Regions from separate parts of the Homo sapiens genome. Here all the other regions are linked to region 2. Evidence: fine-mapped expression QTL. A gene starts in region 2. Each other region holds a variant in brackets. All regions are shown on one strand. Distances are between the middles of the regions.

Region 1 (5,151 bases), 100 kb before region 2:
TCTATATGTGATAAGGAATTAATATTCAGAATATAACTACATTTCAACAACAAAAGCAAACAATTTAAAAATGAGTAAAGGATTTGAATAAACATTTATATGAAGAAGATATACAAATGGCCAATAAGCATATGAAAAGATGCTCAATATCATTAGTCATTAGGTAAATGCAAATAAAAACCACAATTTGACACCAGTTTACAGTATTAAGATGGCTTTTATCAAAACAAAACAAAACAAAACAAGTACTGGAGAGCATCTGGAAACGTTGTCCGTTGCTGATGGGAATGAAAACAGACAGCTTGGTGGTTCCTCAAAAAGTTGAATATAGAATTACTATATGATCCAGCAGTTCCACTCCTAGGACTATACCCAAAATAATAGAAAACAAGGGCTGGAACAGATGCTTCTGTGTTACTGTCCATTGCAATATCATTCACTGTAGCCAAAAGATGGAAACAACCCAAGTGTCCATCAACAGATGAATGGATAAACAAAATACGTTATGTACATAAAATGGAATATCACTGAGCCTAACAAATGAAATCCTGATACATGCTACAACACAGATGAACCGTCAGGACATTATGCTGTGGGAAATAAGCCAGACACAAACTATCAAGCAATATATGCGCTTCCATTTATATGAGGTATCTAGAATGTACCAATTCATGGAGACTGAAAGTAGATCAAAGGTTACCGGGGGCTGTGGGGAGGTGGAATGGAGAGTTATTGCTCGATGGCTACAGAATTCTTACCTGGGAAAATGAAAAGTATTGGAAATAGTGGTGATGGTTGCACAATATTGCGAATGTAATAAATGTCAGTGACTTGTACACTTAAGAATTATTAATGGCTGGGCACGGTGGCTCACGCCTGTAATCCCAGCACTTTGGGAGGCCAAGACGGGCGGATCACAAGGTCAGGAGATCAAGACCATCCTCGCCAACATGGTGAAACCCCGTCTCTACTAAAATGTAAAAAATTAGCCGGGTGCGGTGGTGCGCACCTGTAGTCCCAGCTACTCAGGAGGCTGAGGTAGAGGAATCGCTTGAACCCGGGAGGCGGAGGTTGCAGTGAGCTGAGATCGTGCCATTGCACTCCAGCCTGGCAACAGAGCAAGATTCTGTCTCAAAAAAAAAAATTATTAACATGGCAAATTTCATGATATATACATATTTTACAATTTTTAAAATTAATAATGTAATATACCCAAAACCATTGCAGGTACACTTTGGGTGAATTACATAGCATGTGAATTATATCTCAATAAAGCTGTTTTGGGTGGGCACAGTGGCTCACATCTGTAATCTCAGCACTTTAGGAGGCTGAGGCAGGAGGACAACTTGAGGCCAGTAATTTGAGACCAGCCTGGGCAATATAGTGAGACCCCCATCTCTACAAAATCTTTTAAAAATTAGCCGGGTGTAGTGGCAAGTGCCTGTAGTCCTAGCTACTCAGGAGGCTGAGGCAGGAGGATTGCTTGAGCCCGGGAGTTTGAGGTTACAGTGAGCTATGATCATGCCGCTGCACTCCAGCCTGGGCCACAGAGCAAGACCCTGTCAAATAAATAAATAAGCTGTTTTTTAAAAATCACTGTAATTAAAAACAAAAACTCCTGGATACCTAAGGTTGGCAAAATGCTGATCGTTGTTGTGGCTGGCCGAATTCTAAAGATTTCAAGATTCTAATTTTGTACTGCTCTGAAGGGACTTTGCAGATGGAATTTAGATGACTAAGTAGCTGACGTTAAAACAGGCAAATTATCCTGGGTTATCCAGGCAGGCCCTTAAAAACAGAGGAGGGAGGCAGAAGAGTCAGAGAGATAAGGCAGAAACAGAAAGCGGGAGAGGAGAGGGTGAAGGGGGAGAGGGACTATTTACACTTCCCTTTAGGTTACAGGCACAGAGAAACCTTTAGGCTGAACTTAAAATATGTGAGTAGCTTTAAGCTAAACTTGATTTAACAGGGAAAAACAGGACTTTGCAAAAATTCTTTTAGGGAGTGTACTATCGAGCACATTTGAAGACCACAGGTCTCGAAAGCGGGGAAGACGGGACCCAGAGTCCCCCGCAGCAGCGTCACGGCCCAGCTCTGGTTCTCAAGTTGGGCTGCTGTTTTTCCCCTTTTTCTCATCCGCCAGGATGCCAGGCGCTGCTGAAAGCTGCAGCCGAAAGGATTTAGAATTCCTTACAACGGAGAAAGGGTCTTTGCTCAGACAACATGGACTTAAGAGACGGAAGGGCCAAAAAGGCTTGAAAACAGGCTCGAAGAGCGGCTTCCTGGTAGCTAGAAGCTTAAGTGGGGACAGATGAGCTTAACTGGCAAGCCTGCGTGTGTGCTCTCCAGCCCCCGTGATTCAGTTTAAATCTGGGCGGGTCTCCTCAAAGACAGTTCCAGAAGGGGCCACGTGAGGGCAGTAAGAGCCTCTCAATGCCTGTTTTTGGGGGAAGAGAGAAGTGAGGGCGGAGCGCGGGGAGCGTCCCAGGCCTGGCTACCCGGATAACTTCCCCAAAAGAAGCTATGCTCGGGC[C/G]TTCCCATCGTCCCACTCAAGAGCTTTCTTCATATTGGTGAGTTGCCCAACTGCTAGCAAAAGAACTTCCCAATTATGGTCAAGCCTCTTCATCTAAATTCAGATTTCCACCAAATAGCCCAGCCCTTTTCCTCCCCAAGTCATCTCCTTACTCAAACATTTGCAGACATTCGTCACACGAGATCCCCAGCCGTGGGCTCAGCATCTTACACCGAGGTACGAAAACACAGAAGTATTCCTGAGTGTATTCTGTGTATGCAAAAGTGCATACGTCTCCTTATGGACCAGGTTCTGAGTGAATCTAAGTGGAAAACACGGAATAGCAGGCTAATTCCAGAAAATGCAGGGCTTTTGCAAATAAGTGGGCGTCTAGTCACTAAGCAGGTAGTAATAACAGGTGATGCTAAATGATTGCTTCGAACCACTTTGTTAAGGGGATCAGAGAAGGGAGAAGGCTCAGGAGAGAGAGTGCAGCAAGAAGCTTTTATTAGCTGGATGGAAATGGGAAAACTAACTCAGGATAACCTTATGTAGTAGAATTTATTGTGCCCATTGAGTAAGTCAGGAAACTGAGGGTTAAGGAGGTGAAGTAACTTGGCAAAGGTCACGCCGTCAGAGCAGAGTCCAGTTCCAGATTTGGTTTACTCTAAATACCCTTCCTCACCCCCCTTTTTAAGAAATACCTTAAATGAAAATTTATTTTTACTTTATCTTACATTATTATTTATTTGTATTCAGCACATTTTCATTTAGAAAGTTGGAAAATAAAGGCACAAGAAAAACAAATAACAGTAATTTCATTACTCAATAATGGCCTCATCACTACAATCTTGTCCAGAAATGTTGTAAACACACACACACAATACTTTTACATATATTTTTGTAAGATATATATATAACAAAAAATGTGATCCTGTGATACTTTTCCGTATTTTTGTTTTCCATTTAAATAAATGTGCATATGAACATTACTTTGATCAACTACATAATAGTATCATACTCTATTATATGGACAATAAACTCTCACCAGTTCATTTATTGATGAACTTTTAGGGTGTTTCTATGTGTTTTTTGATGTGATAAATAACAATAAACCAATAAACACCCACATACTAATATCAGTGTCCTTTTTTTTTTTTTTTTTTTTTTTTTGAGAGTCACGCTCTGTTGCCCAGGCTGGAGTGCAGTGGTGCAATCTCAGCTCACTGCAACCTCCGCCTCCCGGGTTCAACAATTCTCCTGCCTCAGCCTCCCGAGCAGCTGCGACCACAGGCATGTGCCACCATGCCCAGCTAATTTTTTATATTTGTAGTAGGGATGTGGTTTCACCATGTTATCCAGGATGGTCTCAATCTCCTGACCTCATGATTCACCCGCCTCGGCCTCCCAAAGTGCTGGGATTACAGGCATGAGCCACCACGCCCGACCCTCAGTGTCCTTATTAATATCTTTAGGATAAATTTCAACTCAGGATTATTTAAAAATTTAAGACTTTCAATAGATACTCCCCAACTGCCTTACAGAAAGTTTGTACCACTTTATACTTCCACCAGCGGGAGTGTTGGAGAGGGCCCGTTTACCTATGTTTTTGCCTTTGCATAGTTTATTTTTTCATTTTTGCCAATTACATAGGTGGTGTTTGTTTATTAAAATTTACATTATTGGCTGGTTGCAGTGACTCACGCCTGTAATCCCAGCACTTTGGGAGGCCAACATGGGAGGACTGCTTGAAGCTAGGAGTTTGAGGCCCATCCTGGGCAACATACTGAGGCTCAGTCTCTAAAAAGAAAAAAAATTACACTCTTTAAGTTGCGGTAAACTTTTGAAATGCACACTAGCCACTTAAAGTTCTTTTGTCAATTGTCCTTCTAGTCCTCAGTTCTTTTTTCTAATTGGGAGAATCTCACTGATTTATAAGTGTCCTTTACATTTTAAAGCTAATTAACCTTTTGTTGTCTATTTTGCAAATAATATTCCCCAAGGGTTTGTTGTTGTTGTTGTTGTTTGTTTGTTTGTTTGTTTTTTTGAGACAGGGTTTTGCTCTGTTGCCCAGGCTGGAGTGCAATGGCGTGATCTTGGCTCACTGCAATCTTGGCTCACTGCAACCTCTGTCTCCTGGGTTCAAGCTATTCTCCTGCCTCAGCCTCTCCAGCAGCTGGGATTACAGGCATGTGCCACCACACCTGGCTAAGTTTTGTATTTTTAGTAGAGATGGGGTTTCACCATGTTGGCCAGGCTGGTCTTGAACTCCTGACCTCATGATCTGCCAGCCTCAACCTCTCAAAAAGTGCTGGTTACAGGCGTGAGCCACTGCGCCCAGCTTTTTTGTTGGTTTTTTGTTCTGGGGGATTTGGGGACATACGGAAGGTTTTAATCTACATGTAGTCAATTCCTGCTCAGTACGAATTAGAACAAAAGTACCAGCCAAGAAGTCATGAGGCGGAAAATGTCCAGGCTGCACCCTGTGGCATATGGTATTTTCCAAAATGGCCTGAACACAATCTCCCACCCCACATATTCTTACAATGGTGTGTCGATGTGATATTGACATTCCTCTCACCAAGAACTAGGGCCTATGTCCCTCTCCTTGAATCTGGATGGGCCTATGACTATAGCAG
Region 2 (5,151 bases):
GCTGAGACTACAGGCGTCCGCCACCGCGCCCGGCTAATTTTTTGTATTTTTAGTAGAGACGGGGTTTCACCGTGTTAGCCAGGATGGTCTCCATCTCCTGACCTCGTGATCTGCCCGCCTCGGCCTCCCAAAGTGCTGGGATTACAGGCGTGAGCCACTGCGCCCGGCCAAGTAGAGCTTTCTTCTATATACCTATTACTTTACTTTTTTCTTCTTTTTCATGTTCTTCACTACACATTTTGTGTGTGTTCCTAGGAAATCTTTTAAACTAAGTTTTATTTGATATGTATATTTAGTATCGATGTTCTAAGATACTATTGAATAAAATACATACTGCAGTAGCTTAGTTAAAATACTGGAACCGAGGCCAGGAGCGGTGTCTCATGCCTGTAATCCCAGCACTTTGGGAGGTAGAGGTGGGTGGATCACCTGAGGTCAGGAGTTCGAGACCAGCCTGACCAACATGATGAAACTCTGTCTCTACTAAAAATACAAAATTAGCCGGGCATGGTAGCACATTCCTGTAATCCCAGCTACTTGGGAGGCTGAGGCAGGAGAATCACTTGAACCCGGGAGGCGGAGGTTGCAGTGAGCCGAGACTGTGCCACTGCACTCCAGTCAGGGAAAAAGAGTGAAGCTGCATCTTGAAAATAAAATAAAATAAAAAACACTGGTACCGAAAAAAATAATAGTCACAAATGGCATTACTTTGTGCCTTTTACAAACAAATAATACTTTGAGGGCCAATTGTATACCATTATCATCTAAAGTCTGTCTCATTTTCTTTGCTTTAATGAAATCATGATAATCTATTATTTTCTACTCAAGGTTAACAGAAACTGGCTTGTTACTTAATATTTCTTTGACTTCTTTTGTCCATTAAAAAAGGGGGGTGTTTTTAAGATTAGTGGGTGAAAGTTGATGTATAAATAAGAGTAGACACAGCTTTAGGTAAAATGACGAAACAGGTTAAGTTTGGCTTCCTCTTTTTGTTTCAGTTCAGGCCCATGCACCTAGCACAATACTTAGCGCATTGTAGGTGCTCATTATATACTGCTTAAATGAGTGATAAGTTCCCTGAGACATTTATTTCCTGCACTTGTTAGGGTTCAGTGAGCCGATATCCGGCCACTGCCCTCCAGCCTGGGCGACAGAGCGAGAATCTGTCTCAAAAAAAAAAAGATAAAAAATAAAAATAAAAGACTACCTGCCAGAGGAAGTGGGCAATCTTCGCCTAAAGATATGAACTGCTAATGGTTAAACATCAGACGTCAGAGAAGACATATTTTAAAGTGGGGAATTTTCCCCAAGAGCACCCTCTAAACCACATCAGTGGGCAACTTAACGCACTTTGCTTGTCATTGGGTTAGATGGGAGTTTGAGGAATTGGGAGTAACATTTGGTATATAGGCTTGGGACATAATATCCTGAATTATTTCTATTTCATAATTCCTGTGCAAAAAATTATGGGAGTTGTTGATTCTACAGCAATTCCTGTCAATTTGTAGATTATCTGCTTATTAATAGTTTGTATTGTTTGGCAGAACTTGAAAACTACCGAACGATTACAGTTCAGGCTTTTTCCCAGTACCTCTGGCGTTGCTGTCTCAGTGACTAGGAGGTGAGGAGGGTGGCCCTTGAAATGCCAAACTGCCTACCGCAGCAGTCTGCCAGCAGCGTGCTGGGCCCAGAGCCGGGGATGCAGCCAAAACATCCTGGATTTTACCTACAGCTCCCACCCTCTGGAGGGACTGGTCTATTAGGGCATATGACACTGACAGTGCGCACTGTATACAAACCGTGTTTGAACAGGAGTCGGTTGGAAAATACACCACTGCACTGAATTACTTCTGCAGTGGCTTTGCAAAGCTCTTTTTGTTTCTTGAAAGAAGCCGACGGTAACCATTACAATATGGCTTTTTCCAGGTCCCAGAGGAAGGCTAGGGGTGCCTTGTGGGTAACCCTTTCTCCCTCTCCTGACTCCTTCCCGTTATTTCTTCTATCTTCATCCTCTAGACCTACACAATGGGACAGGTTGACAGTCTGTGTTGAATGGAAGAGGCGGACGATGCGCTTGTGTTTGGTGCTTCTCAAACGGTGCTCGCACTCCCCAGGGTCTGACGCAGCCCACTACGCAGAGCCCTGGGAGGAGGTGCGGACCCAGGGTACGACCCCCGACCGCTGAGAAACCCAGACCGGGCCCCGGCTGCAGCCCCGCGGGTCGGCCCGCCCCCCTGCCTTCCCTATTGGCTCGGCAGTTCCACGCGTCACGCCTGCGACGCCGGCGCTGCCCTCCCAGAGGAGGCGGGGCTTACACGCGCGAGGCGGAGCCAAGGGCGCACGCGCAGACGAGCGGGTCTGGGTCCGGACGAGGGGAGGGAGGGGGTGGTGTTCTCGGTTTCCTGGGTTACCTGGGCGGGCGGGGGTGGGGAGTGCGCGGCGGCGGCGGCAGCGGCGTCGGCTCGGGGTTCTCCGGGAGAGGGGGAGTGCGCGGCGGCCGCAGCTGCCACAAACCAGGTAAAGGCGGCCGCCGGGCGCCGACGCTGCCGGCAGAAGGTTCCGGGTCCCGGCCCCTCTGCGTGGCCTGGAGGGGAGGCGGTTTGGGGCTGGTGGCTGTCAGCCTGGGTTGAGGGCCGGGACCGCCGGGCTGAGGGCGCGAGGGCGCGAGGGCACTCGGCCTGACGCGCCAGCTCGGGGCGTCCTCTCTGGCTTCTGGGCTCTGGGACTTCTCGCGGCGCCGGGCCGCCTTTGACAGCCGCCGGGCCGCGGGCGGGAGCTCGGCTGGGCCCCTCTGGGCCATTGCAGCGGCCACTGGGCACTAACTTTATTTCGCAGCGCGCGGGGGGCGAGGTCGAGCAGGCTGACGGCGGTGTGTTGCTACCTTTATTTTATTTTTTGATCCTGTGCCGCTGCACTACTCAGCCCAGCTGGGCCCAAGCTGTCAGGTTGACGATGGGAGTTGACGGTTTCCGCGCCACCACCCAGCCGGTCACTCCCCGCGCTGTTGCCCTGCGGCGCTCGCCCACCTGTCACCTACACCGTGCGCCTCGGTCCGCTCTTTCCTCCTGTCCGTGACACCCTTTGACTGGGCGAGAGCCTCTCTTTCCAGGGGATCCCCTGAGACATCTGCCGTCTGTCTCCGGTATCACTGGAGCCTGACTGAGATGCCCCTTCGCTTCTGATGAGTTAAATAAGCTGGGAAATTACCCGAGAAGACCCCGGTACCACAGTGTAAAGCCCAACGAAGGGGTTGTTTAATGGTCCAGGGGATACAGAGGCTTTAAGAAACGTTTCCTTAACGCTAATTCTTATCTGGTTAAACAAAACATAGCAAAACATCCCCGATCCGCTCGGCAGACCATACACACCCAGCGACGGCACTTGATAGTTAATGGGGTTTGTTTTAAGCAGATAGAAAATTTTAAGGGAGTCGAATCTTGTGTTGAATGCGTTCGTGTTGAATTTGGGCCAGTGTTTCCTTGAAGATCAAATGCAGGTTGCATTTTCCTATTGTTTGTTTAACAGATTGATAGGACAAACTGAATTAGACTTTTCTTCCTGATGATTCTTGGCTCTTCTGCGCTATTATTTTAAAATTCCACGCCTAGATTCATCTATGCTAATAAAGATGTTGACTTTAAGCTTTCAATTTATAGATGTAGTTGATTAATATGGGGTATCTGTTTTAAAGAGCTTTGTTAAGTGGCCAACAACTCTTTTTCTGATAGCTCTTTGCTGTCATCCATATTGTTACTACAAAGATTGGAGAATTTGAAGAAGAGAGGGCATAAGGAAAAATGAATTGCTGTAATTTGCATAAAAATACTTCACAAACTATATAATTATATATATGTATTTAGTAAATATTTATTGAGCACCTACTGCGTGTCAGATACTTTTCTAAGAAAACATAAATATCTGCTCCTTCATGGAGCTTATATTCTAGTGGGGACCTCAGATAATAAACAAATAAAATATGTGCTGTGTCAGATGGTGTTAAGTACTACAGAGAAAAAGCACGGAAGAGGGAGGGCAGGGAAGAGGGAGGGCAGGGAACCGGGAGAGGTTTGCAATTTTAACTAGAGGCAGCCAGGGAAAGCTTCCTAGAAAAGATATCATTTGAGCCAAGACCAGAAGTAAGTGAGGGGTAATCCATGTACCTCTCTGAGGGAAGGATGTGCTAGCAGAGAGGAAGGCAGAAGGGCTTGCAGAAGCCCTGTGTGCTGGGCTTGTTTGAGGACAGCAGAGAGGCTGATTTGGCTGTGGTGGAAAAAGCAAAGAGGAGTAGAAATAAAGTCAAAGAGGTGAGTGTGGTGGGAGATTAGACTGTATAAGGCCTTGTAGGCCCTTTTAAGGACTTGAGTTTCTACTCTCAGTGGAAAGGGGAGTCCACTCTTTGAGTAAAGAACCTTACCTTTTATTTTTAGTTTTGAGTCAGGATCTCACTTTGTCTCCCAGGCTGGAGTGCAGTGGCATGATCACAACCTACTGCAGCCTCGACTTCCCAGGCTCAGGTGATCCTCTCACCTCAGCCTCTGAAGTAATTGGGACTTCAGGCACACATCACCCACCATGCTTGGCTAATTTTTTGTAAAGATGGGGTTTCGCCATTGTTGCCCAGGCTGGTCTCAAACTCCTGGGCTCAAGCGATCCATCCACCTTGGCGTGTCAACATTCTGCGATTGTAGGCGTGAGCCACTGCGCTCGGCCCCAGGCTTGCCTTTTAAAAATGATCATTCTGGGCGCTGGATGGAGAATAGACTTTGTTGTAGGGGAAGGGTTGAGCAGGAGCAGAAGCTGGGATACCAATCCGGAACTGTTGCCCTAATCCAGGCCAGAGATAATGTAGCTTGGACCAGAGTGGAATTGGTGGAGGTGGTGAGAGGTCATTGATTTCAGGATAAATTGAGGGTAGAGATGTAAAAGACACCAAAATTTAGTTCCGAACAAGTAGAAAGATGGGGTACTTGTTTACTGAGATTAGGTTTACGAGAGGAGTAGGTTTGGTGGGGAGAAGGGTGGGAGTTGGTTAGAAGACAATAAAATTAGACATTCACGTTTTTAAAGAAAAAAATATTCAATGATACTTGTTTAAGAATGGTAAGTAAGGCTTTATTCAGAACCATCTCAATAGGTATAGAGACCTCTGCA
Region 3 (5,151 bases), 72 kb before region 2:
GAACAATGAGTCCCATCAAGCCCTGGGAATACGTAGAATGAGAATCAGGTCCTGGGCTCACCACTTGCAGAGGAAGCAGATATTTAAACAAATGGAGCCAGGCACGGTGGCTCATGCCTGTAATCCCAGCACTTTGGGAGGCCGAGGTGGGCGGATCACCTGAGGTCAGGAGTTCGAGACCAGCCTGGCCAATATGGTGAGACCCCCCGCCGTCTCTATTAAAAATACAAAAAAGATCTGGGTATGGTGGCGGGCATCTATAATCCCAGCTACTCAGGAGGCTGAGGCAGGAGAATTGTTTGAACCCAGGAGGTGGTGGGTGCAGTGAGCTGAGATCACGCCACTGCACTCCAGCCTGGGCAACAGAGTGAGACTCCATCTCAAAAATAAATAAATAATAAAAAAACAAGTGAAGACAGAACAGGAACAGTGGAAGAGCCAACAGGCTCTCAGTGCCAGGAATCTGAGCATCAAGGAAGGGAGGCTTCCTGAAGGTAGCTGATATGTTTGATGATAGATGGTAGATGATATGTTTGAAGTGAGTCCCAAAGAAAAGGTAGGAACGCAAATAGGAAAAGACTTTCTGCAAAGAAGGAAATCTGTTTGCAAAGGTACAGCTCCAGAAATGCACAGTGGGTCATACACATTGTTTTTAGGAGGAACTGTGAGGTCATCAGTCTGGAGCCAAGGGTGCAAGGTGAGAGGGGAACATGAGTAGGCACAGCCAGGCATTGAAGGGCCTCGTCTACCCTACAAAGGTGTGTGGACTTATCCTACAGACATTGAGTTGCCTGAGTATTAAAGTAGCATGAAGACATGGTACCATTGGTTTTATAGCCAGAGAATTCTGGTAGCCATAAGTAGGGCAGGGAAGTGGGACCAAGGGCCAGAAGCGTGATGATGAAACCGGGTTGGGTGGTGGGGTGGTGAAAGCCTAAGCTACGTACCCAGCAGTGAGTGTCGACATGATACTGCAGTGCTGTGACTTGCAGGTCAGTTGGGAGGAGAATGAGGGTGGGGAAGCCAACGGGTTGATCTCTTCGCTCTGCCAGCACCAAGTTCTGGGTGCTCATCCACTCCCTGACCCACAGCTCTTTGCTGTCTAATGTACCCAGCACCTTGCAGCCACACTAACCTTCCCCAGGCAGTGTCATCTCATCCCTGTTCTCCCCAACCACCTTGTAGAGCATAATTGCATAAAGGTTAAATTCCCCCTTCATTTTTAAAAAATTAAATTATTTATACATTTTTAAAGCTATCTTTTGTTTTAGAGATAGAGGCTCACCCTGTCACCCAGTCTTGAGAGCAGTGGCACGATCACAGCTCACTGCAGCCTCAACCTCCTGGACTCAAGAGATCCTCCACTTCAGCCTCCCAAATAGCTGGGACCACAGGTGTCCACCACCATGCCCGGCTAATTTTTTAAATTTTTTGTAGAGATAGGGTCTTGCTATGTTGCCCAGGTTGGTCTCGAACTCCCAGACTCACATGATCCTCCAGCCTCAGCCCCTCAAAATGCTGGGATTACAGGGGTGAGCAACCACACCTGGCCAAAATCCTCTTTTAATGGCTACATTCCAAGTCCCCTATTCAGCCTTCACGCTCAGTATTTCCTAGTGTGAAATACCTCCACCCAAGACACCCTGTTATGTCCTCACAGAACCTGCCATTTCTGCACTGACACTCTGTCCTCACAGTGTCTCCAAGGGCTGCCCTCCTCTACCTGTGTGAATGAAATACATCCTCCAAGGCTCACCTCCCCTGTGAAACCTCCCCCACCAGGGTTCCTCATAGAAAGCTCTCCCTCTGCTGATTCCTATGGCATTTTTTCCTGACACTCTACCACTCTTGTTTTGCACTGTTACTTACATGTTTTGAACATGTGTCATGGCTCACAGAATAACGTAAGCTCTTTGTGGGAGAGAAGCCATGAGTATCTCTCAGAAGCCAGTATAAAGCTCCCTATATAGTAGGAGTCAGTAGATATTGATTGACTGTCAGTCTGTCTATCGAGAGGCTTATCAACAGTACCTGTCACTCTGCTGTCATCAGTGTGACTGGTGTGCAGTACTGAGAACGGGCCCTGGTCCGAAGCCTCTGCCATTTATCATAAACTCATGACCTCAGGCCAGTCACTTAACCTCTCTGGATCTTCATTTCCTTATCAGTAAGACGGCAAAGTTAGAGGAATCAATGGTGGTTAATTCCTTTCCACTTTTTTTTGATCATAGGACTTCCTTTCAAATGTGGACCTGCTTGTGTGCAGTACATGACGGAAAAGCTGCTAGGAACCCAGCCTTCTCCTCCCCCCTCCTTCTCCTCCTCCTCCTCCTCCTTCCCTTCAATCCACTGTAGACTTAGAAAAAAACCTGAAAACTCCCACACTGGGTGGTTCCTTCTAAGACTCAACACCTGCATGGTTACAGGATAACAAAGATGACCAGTCTCATGGCTCTAGGTCTGGGCACTGCTATGTCTACATAGGACTATGGCAGGATCTAGGCTAAGGGCTTGGTCAAACCCA[C/T]GCTCACTAATTATAGAGAAGTAGTTACTGCAAAATTTCCCGAGGAAACCAAAGCTAGGGTTTGGTTTCCACTTAGATTGAGCAACTTCCTTCCAGGGCACTCAACCTTCTCAGCAAAACATTCTCTTTTAATACAGGCAGTCCAATAATGCACAAGGGTTGTGATTGTGCATTTGACATAAACATATAAATGCACCTTCAGGAGGAAGCTGGGCCCCTGGTTATTCACTCTGGTGGTGGTGTTTACGTGAGGCACTGTCCACTTTAATCATCTTAAAAATTTAGAACAGGTTGAGGTCACGACTCACGGCCAGTATGGCAGCAAGGGACAGCTAAGCGTATACTGTGAGATTTGAAGTAAATAGGTGGCTCTCACCTGTAATCCAGCACTTTGGAAAGTCCAAGCGGGAGGACTTCTTGAGGCCACGAGTTTGAGAGCAGCCTGGGCAACACAGGGAGATCTTGTCTCTACCAAAAATATTTAAAAACTAGCCAGACATACTGGGGTGCTTCTGTAGTCCCAGCTACTCAAGTAACTGAGGTGGGAGGATGGCTTGAGCCCAGGAGGTTGAAGGTGCAGTGAACTGTGATTACGCCACGGCACTCCAGCCTGGGTGACAGAATGAGACCCTGTCTCTAAGAAAAATTAAAAATAAAGGCTGGGCGCGGTGGATCATGCCTGTAATCCCAGCACTTTGGGAGGCCGAGGTGGGTGGATCACAAGGTCAGGAGATTGACACCATCCTGGCTAACACGGTGAAACCCCGTCTCTACTAAAAACACAAAAAATTAGCTGGGCATGGTGGCGGGCGCCTGCAGGCCCAGCTACTCGGGAGGCTGAGGCAGGAGAATGGCGTGAACCTGGGAGGCAGAGCTTGCAGTGAGCCGAGGTCGCGCCACTGCACTCTACCCTGGTCAAAAGAGTGAGACTCCATCTCAAAATAAAATAAATAAAATAAAATAAAATAAAATAGAAATTAATAGTATTACCTCAAGTGACAGAGGATGTTTCACATTTCACTTGTAGCCACCTAAAAATAATTTAAAATCACACTAAAGGGATCTAAGACTTTCATTGCCTGAATCCTCCTTTTCAAAATTGTGTCTCCTCTAAAGGATATCTTAGGCTCCTCTCCTTCCTCCAGCCAACGTCAACCTGCGCCCAGCAGGCTGGGCAGGAAGCTCAGTGTCTTCATCCCAGCCAATCTCTGAAGAGAAACTGGAAACGTTTCCGGTTAACTAAGCCAGTTGCTCCAAAAAGGCCCCCATTCCTGGGTCACTTTCTTCTGACCTGTTCCTAAGTGAAGTTGGCACTGGTTTGGGGTAGATGGGCTGCAAGAACTGTTTTCAGATTTCCCAGACCTCGCTCTCTCCTTTTTGTAAACACCTTGACCTAAATTTCCCATCCACTGCTTGCTGGTCAGCACTGCATTTACAATTTCCAACTTCAGCTGTTCCTAAAGGAACAACTGGGGTCCAAGATAGCGCATCGGACCTATCTGCCTTAAACAGTAGGGTTCCTGTTCTCTCCTCTGGGGTGGTTGTCACAGGAACTCATGGCAACCAGATCTTCCCCAACAGAGCAGCTTCTCAGAGTGGTGGGTGGTTATCGGGGCCAGGCAGAGGCTATGCTGTTGTATATAGTGATGCCTCTGGGGGATTCACAACGAAAGAACCATGAGTGGGTGTGTGGGTGTGTGTAGAGACAGAGGGAGATGAGACAGAGAGAGTGCCAAGAGACTTTTGTCACGGTAGCCAGGAATGGGCTATTTTGGGTTATTTTGAGTTGGAATCTCACTCTGTCACCCAGGCTGGAGTGCAGTGGTGCCATCACAGCTTACTGTAGCCTCGAATTCCTGGGCTCAAGCAATCCTCCCACCCCAGCCTCCCAACTGGCTAGGACTACAGGCTCACAGCACAGGCACGGTGGCTGTGCCACGGTGGAGTTCAAGACCAGCCTGAGCAACATAGTGAAAACTCATCTCTACAAAAAATACAAAAATTAGGTGTGGTGGCATGCACCTGTAGTCCCAGCTATTTGGGAAGCTGAGGCAGGAGGATAGCTTGAGCCCAGGAGGTGGAGGTTGCAGTGATCCAAGATGGCACCACTGGACTCCAGCCTAAGTGAGAGAGCCAGACCCTCTCTCAAAAAAAAAAAAAAAAAAAAAATCCCAGCTCTTCCACTTACTGGCTATAAGACCTTGCTGATTTAAGATATTCAGCTTCTTGGAGCCAAAGTTTCCCCATCTGTAAAATGGGGATGACAATAATAATACCTACCCGATAGGGTGGCTTTGATGATTACACAATGTAATACGTATAAACTGCCTGGCACATTGCAAAGCACTGTGTGTGTTAGCCGTTGCTTTTATTACGCTACACCTGTCTCCATGGTTTTACCCCTGACTTTAACATGAACATTTTTTAAAAACTTATTTTGAAAGAATTTTAACCTTACAGAAAAGTTGCAAGAATAATACAATGAACTCCATATACTCTTTGGATTCACTGATTGTTAATATTTTGCCACGTTTGCTTTATCTCCCTCTCTTTTTTCTTTCTCTTACTCTCTATATACCATCATTATAGTTATCATTTTTGCTAACCTATTTAAGGGTTAAGTTATG
Region 4 (5,151 bases), 26 kb before region 2:
ATTTTTAAATTAATAAATAATAATTGTACATAGTCATGAGGTATATAGTGATGTTTTGATATTTATAATATATAATGATCAGATCACAGTATCAGCATATCCATCATCTCAAACACAAAAATGTTAACTTTTTATTGAAGTATAACATACATACATAGAAAATAGCACACATCTTATGTTCACAATCTGATGAATGATTACAAACTGAACACAATCATGAACAACACATTGATCAAGAAATAGAACATGACCAGACTCTTAGAAGCTCTCTTCATAAAATCAGACCGAACCTACTTTGCTATGTCTGGCTTCTTTCACTCCAGATTATGTTTATGTACATTGAGTGCACATGGACACAAAGAAGGGAGCAACAAACACGGGGCCTACTTGAGGGTGGAAGATGGGAGAGGTGTGAAGATAAAAAAACTACCTATTTAGTACGATGTTTATTACCTGAGTGACGAAATAATCTGTATACCAAACCTCCGTGGCTCGTAATTTACCTATATAGCAAATCTGCACCTGAGCCCCTGAACCTAGAATAAAAGTTAAAATATAGGCCGGCATGGTGGCTCATACTGTAGTCCCAGCACTTTGGGAGGCTGAGGTGGGTGGATCACCTGAGGTCAGGAGTTCAAGACCAGCCTGACCAACATGGTGAAACCCTGTCTCCACTAAAAATACAAAAATTAGCCGGGTGTGGTGGTGCATGCCTGTAGACCCAGCTACTCTGAAGGCTGAGGCAGGAGAATCGCTTGAACCCGGGAGGCAGAGGTTGCAGTGAGCCAAGATGGTGCCATTGCACTCCAGCTTGGGCAATAAGAGCGAAACTCTGCCTCAAAAAAAAAAAAAGTTAAAAAATATACGTGTGTGTGTGTGTGTGTGTGTGTGTGTGTGTGTGTGTGTGGTGTGTATATCTACATGTATATGTATATATAAATATAATTTTTAAAAAACGATTATGTTGGCTGGGCACAGTGGCTCATGCCTGTAATCCCAGCAGTTTGGGAGGCCGAGGCGGGCGGATCACCTGAGGTCAGGAGTTCGAGACCAGACTGACTGACATGGAGAAACCCTGTCTCTACTAAAAATACAAAATTAGCCGGGCGTGGTGGCACATGCCTGTAATCCCAGCTACTCGGGAGGCTGAGGCAGGAGAATCGCTTGAACCAGGGAGGCAGAGGTTGCATGGAGCTGAGATCACACCATTGCACTCCAGCCTGGGCAACAAGAGCAAAGCTCCGTCTCAAAAAAAAAAAAAAAAAAAAAAAAATATATATATATATATATATATATATATACACGTTTATGTGATTGATTCTTCCATGTAGCTGCATTTAATTGGATTAAGTTAATCAATTGATTAAAATCTTAGAATGGTCACACCTTGTCTTTTATAAATACAACACTGCAGAATCTGTGATAATCATAAGCATTTTGTCACCTGATGAAGCATTTTTCATCTAAACTAGCTCTAGGCATTATTATTATCCTCATTTAATAGAAAAGGGGCCTGGGATTGAAAGGGTAATTTGCCTTGCACAAAGCTAGTAGGTGGCCAAGCCAGGACTGCCTCTTATCTAAATCCATGCCCTTTCTGCCCCACCCCATTGAATTAAGAGCAAAGGTAGCAGTGGCTTAAATGAAAGGAATGTTTCGCTCACCATTAGGCCATTTAGACATTGAGACAAAGTTACCAGGGAAAGTTGTCTAAACTTCTTTCCTGAAAATCATTGCGAAAAATTGGGAAGGCAAATATCCCATAAATATTCATCCAGCTTCAATATTAATTATCTCCAGAGAGAATTTCTTCTGCTAATGCTATGATATCAACATTTCTCATTTAATACTATTAATCATAATGCCTTCATGATTACATTGCCTATGTAGTATATGCTTACATATCATGTGGATTTTACATTTGCATATGCCCACTTTCCTCTCCAGCTTAATGAATATCAATGATTGCAGCCTCTTAGCAATAAAGGAGTGTCACTTCTCATTCACAGATGAGGAAATTGAGGCCCACTATCAAATAGATGGTTACGGCGGAACTGGAGCAAAATTCAGGTCTTCAGCCTCCCAGTCCGTGACTCTTTGGAGCGCACATAACTACGTAAAATGAGAAACTTTGTTTCTACTTGGAAACATAAACAATGATAATCCTAATTGTTATTAAAACTGTGAAATGTTTTTTTTTTTCCCAAGACAGTAGGGCTGCATGACTTAGTTTTATGTTATAAAATCATGATATTGTACCCTAAGATAATGATCCTTCTTTGAGACATGATTCAGGTGTCTCTGCAGGAACTAATTTCACAATCCAGTATACTTCATAGGAATTTCGGAAGAAATTAGGTAAATTAGCTGAGAAAACAAGAACTTATCACCTCCAATATTGACTTAAGCGCTAA[T/C]AACACAAGTAACCTTACCTTATAGAGCTGTGGGACTTCAAAAGCAGAAGTGAGGTCACAGAAGAGCTTGGTCTAAACTTGTCCCCTCCTTCCCCATTCCTACTTCTGCTTCTGTGGATATTCCTCTTTTTTGGTAATTTTAGAGAAAAAAAAACAAAAAACAAAAAACAAACATGAAGACTCACATCCAGAGCCTTCCTACCTCCGAATGTAGCATTCACTGCGCTGAGAGCTTTTCCCCAGGAAGTTGGGCTTTGCTCTCACCTGGTCACCTTTCAGGAATCCCAAAAATACAGGGTCTGTTTTCCCTGCAAAAGAACAGTATGTGCAGGTCAAAGGACAACAGATAGGCCTATTTATTTTCCCAGAGACCTTGGCCAGGCCCTAGTGTCTTCTCTTCCCTTGTCCTCAGGTTGTGGGTCAGCCTCAGGTCATGGGTCAGGTCGGGCTTGCACAGCCCTGATCAGGTCCCAGGGCTTCCCTCCCCACCCTCCCTGGTGGGTTTTCTAGGCTTCTTCTTTGAGAGCCTCTATGAACCTCTGTCCTCCCAGTTACCTTTATAAATAGACAATGGGGAAAAACAAATATTTCAATAAATAGTTGAATAAGGTCTCAGAGCTGTTGCCCTTCTAATGACTGTTAGATACTAGAAAATACCTCAAATTTCAGAGCTCTGGGCCATCCCCTGTCCTAGAGCTGGGCCCCCTAGGGTAGCGTTGTGGTCTGGGTACACACCTTGAATGCTGAGTAAATACAGAACTTTCTGGGCTTCTGGTGAGAACTCTTAGAACACGCTATATGGCACGAATATTTTCTCTCCTAGAGAAGACGGCCGAGCCCTGGGACTCTTGTCTGCTGACCCAGACTGTAACAGAGCCTGACAACTCACAGAGGTCTTTTTTTGTCCTCAAGCTCAGAGAACTTCAGGGCCAGCTGCCTTCGTTTGGGTGAGAGGGTGGTGCACAGCTTAGGGAAGGCTGAGCAACAGGAGCTGCAGGGAGGGTGTGGCCTCCTTTGTGGGGTCAACAGTGGGCCTAAGTCTGGGCTGGGTAGTTGGTGAGAGTGAAACTGGGTTGATTGGGAGAGGGACTTATGGCAGTGCCCCTGTCTGAAAGAGGAGCAGGGTCTCTCGGAAGACCCATAATCCTGATCCCTCACTGAAACCCAAACGCCTTGAGAAATCCTCTGCATTGCTCATGACTGACATTTAGTATAGTAATAGTTGTGTTAGGCCCTTTGAATGATAAACACCACATTCTGGATAAGGATGATCTCTAGGAAGAGGCCATGGGAGAAACATATCAATGAAGTCTCATATCCATAATGTTGTCATTTTAAATGCAAGTCTTATTTTGGGATAATTTATGGAAAAATTGCAAATGTAGTCCAAAGAGTTCCCATATACCCCTTCGTCCCATTCCCCCCAGTGTTGACATCTTACATAACCATGGTACAGAAATGAACATAACTCAGAAATTAACACTGGTACAACTAAACGTTAGATTTTATTCAGATTTCACCAGTTTTTTCACAAACGCCCTTTTTCCATTTCAGGATCCAATCCAGGACTCGACATTACACTTAGCACACCTATATTGTTTTATATGTTTGAAAAGTTTGAAAAAATGTTGGCAAGGCCGGGCGCGGTGGCTCACGCCTGTAATCCCAGCACTTTGGGAGGCCGAGGCGGGTGGATCATGAGGTCAGGAGATCGAGACCATCCTGGCTAACAAGGTGAAACCCCGTCTCTACTAAAAATACAAAAAATTAGCCGGGCGCGGTGGCGGGCGCCTGTAGTCCCAGCTACTCGGGAGGCTGAGGCAGGAGAATGGCGTGAACCCGGGAGGCGGAGCTTGCAGTGAGCCGAGATTGCGCCACTGCAGTCCGCAGTCCGGCCTGGGCGACAGAGCGAGACTCCGTCTCAAAAAAAAAAAAAAAAAAGAAAAAAAAAGAAAAAGAAAAAATGTTGGCAAACTTTCTGGCAAGAACAGAAACTTCATTATATTGCTTTCTGGCCATTATTGGAGGGAACATAGTGCTTATGAGGGAGGCTCTGGAGATAAGACAAGCAATCCAGCTTCAAATTCTGGCTCAAGCACTCTCTAGCTGTGTGCTTAATCTCTCTGAGCCTAAATTTCCTCAACTCAAAAATAGGGATGATAACAGTATGTACCACTTAGGCTTACTCTGAGATTTACATGGATTAAGTCACACAAGGCAACTAGAAATTGTGATCAAGAAATGTTAGCTATTATTATTAATTGCATATGTAATTCACAACACAATTTTTCTAAAAATAGCTCCTTTGAGAGTCTCTGGAGTCCATCTTAATAAGAAATCACAACCTTCATTGTAAATCTGTTCCCCATTACAAAATTTGCTACATTGTATTGTAACTATGTGCTTCTGTATCTGTCTTTAACAGTATTGTAACTATTTGTTTCTGTATTTGTTTTTAACAATATTGTAAGTATTTGTTTCTATATCTGTCTTTAACAATGAACTGCACTTTGCACAGCAAGGCACATACAAGAGGAAAGTGTGTTTAGTATGAAGGAAGAAAGAAAACATGGAAAGTGGTTCGGTATCTCCTCCAGATGCTCTAATGGGGGACTCAGGGCCAGAGTGGGGCACAGCATTTGTTCAGATCAAGGGAGCTGCATTTTTCAGGGCAAAGATTTAGCAGGGATGAAAAGATGAAATAACAGTGTAGAGAGAGCTACAAGCACTGAGCAGA

The links. PIP is the estimated chance that this variant, and not a neighbour inherited with it, causes the effect.
Region 1: its variant is fine-mapped to the expression of LYST in whole blood (TOPMed, PIP above 0.99).
Region 3: its variant is fine-mapped to the expression of LYST in whole blood (TOPMed, PIP 0.98).
Region 4: its variant is fine-mapped to the expression of LYST in whole blood (INTERVAL, PIP above 0.99).

What each region holds. Positions count from the first base shown.
Region 1 is chr1:235,969,180-235,974,330 of GRCh38, reverse strand. LINC02768 (long intergenic non-protein coding RNA 2768) reads left to right here and starts at 1,820. Exons shown (of 3, transcript NR_183724.1): 1 at 1,820-2,570. RefSeq lists an enhancer at 2,232-2,281 and a silencer at 5,096-5,151. The variant C/G (reference allele first, on the strand shown) is at 2,534.
Region 2 is chr1:235,864,209-235,869,359 of GRCh38, reverse strand. It overlaps LYST (lysosomal trafficking regulator), which reads left to right and starts at 2,454. Exons shown (of 53, transcript NM_000081.4): 1 at 2,454-2,517. RefSeq lists silencers at 1,987-2,286, 2,337-2,756 and enhancers at 2,877-2,976, 3,347-3,396.
Region 3 is chr1:235,936,300-235,941,450 of GRCh38, reverse strand. The region is part of intron 2 of LINC02768 (long intergenic non-protein coding RNA 2768); the gene reads left to right. The region is part of intron 2 of LOC105373215 (a long non-coding RNA gene); the gene reads right to left. Among named protein-coding and RNA genes, the nearest start is that of LINC02768, 34 kb to the left of the region's middle. The variant C/T (reference allele first, on the strand shown) is at 2,525.
Region 4 is chr1:235,890,512-235,895,662 of GRCh38, reverse strand. It overlaps LOC105373215 (a long non-coding RNA gene), which reads right to left and starts at 3,378. Exons shown (of 5, transcript XR_002958490.2): 1 at 3,150-3,378; 2 at 2,433-2,722. RefSeq lists a silencer at 3,444-3,493. The variant T/C (reference allele first, on the strand shown) is at 2,415.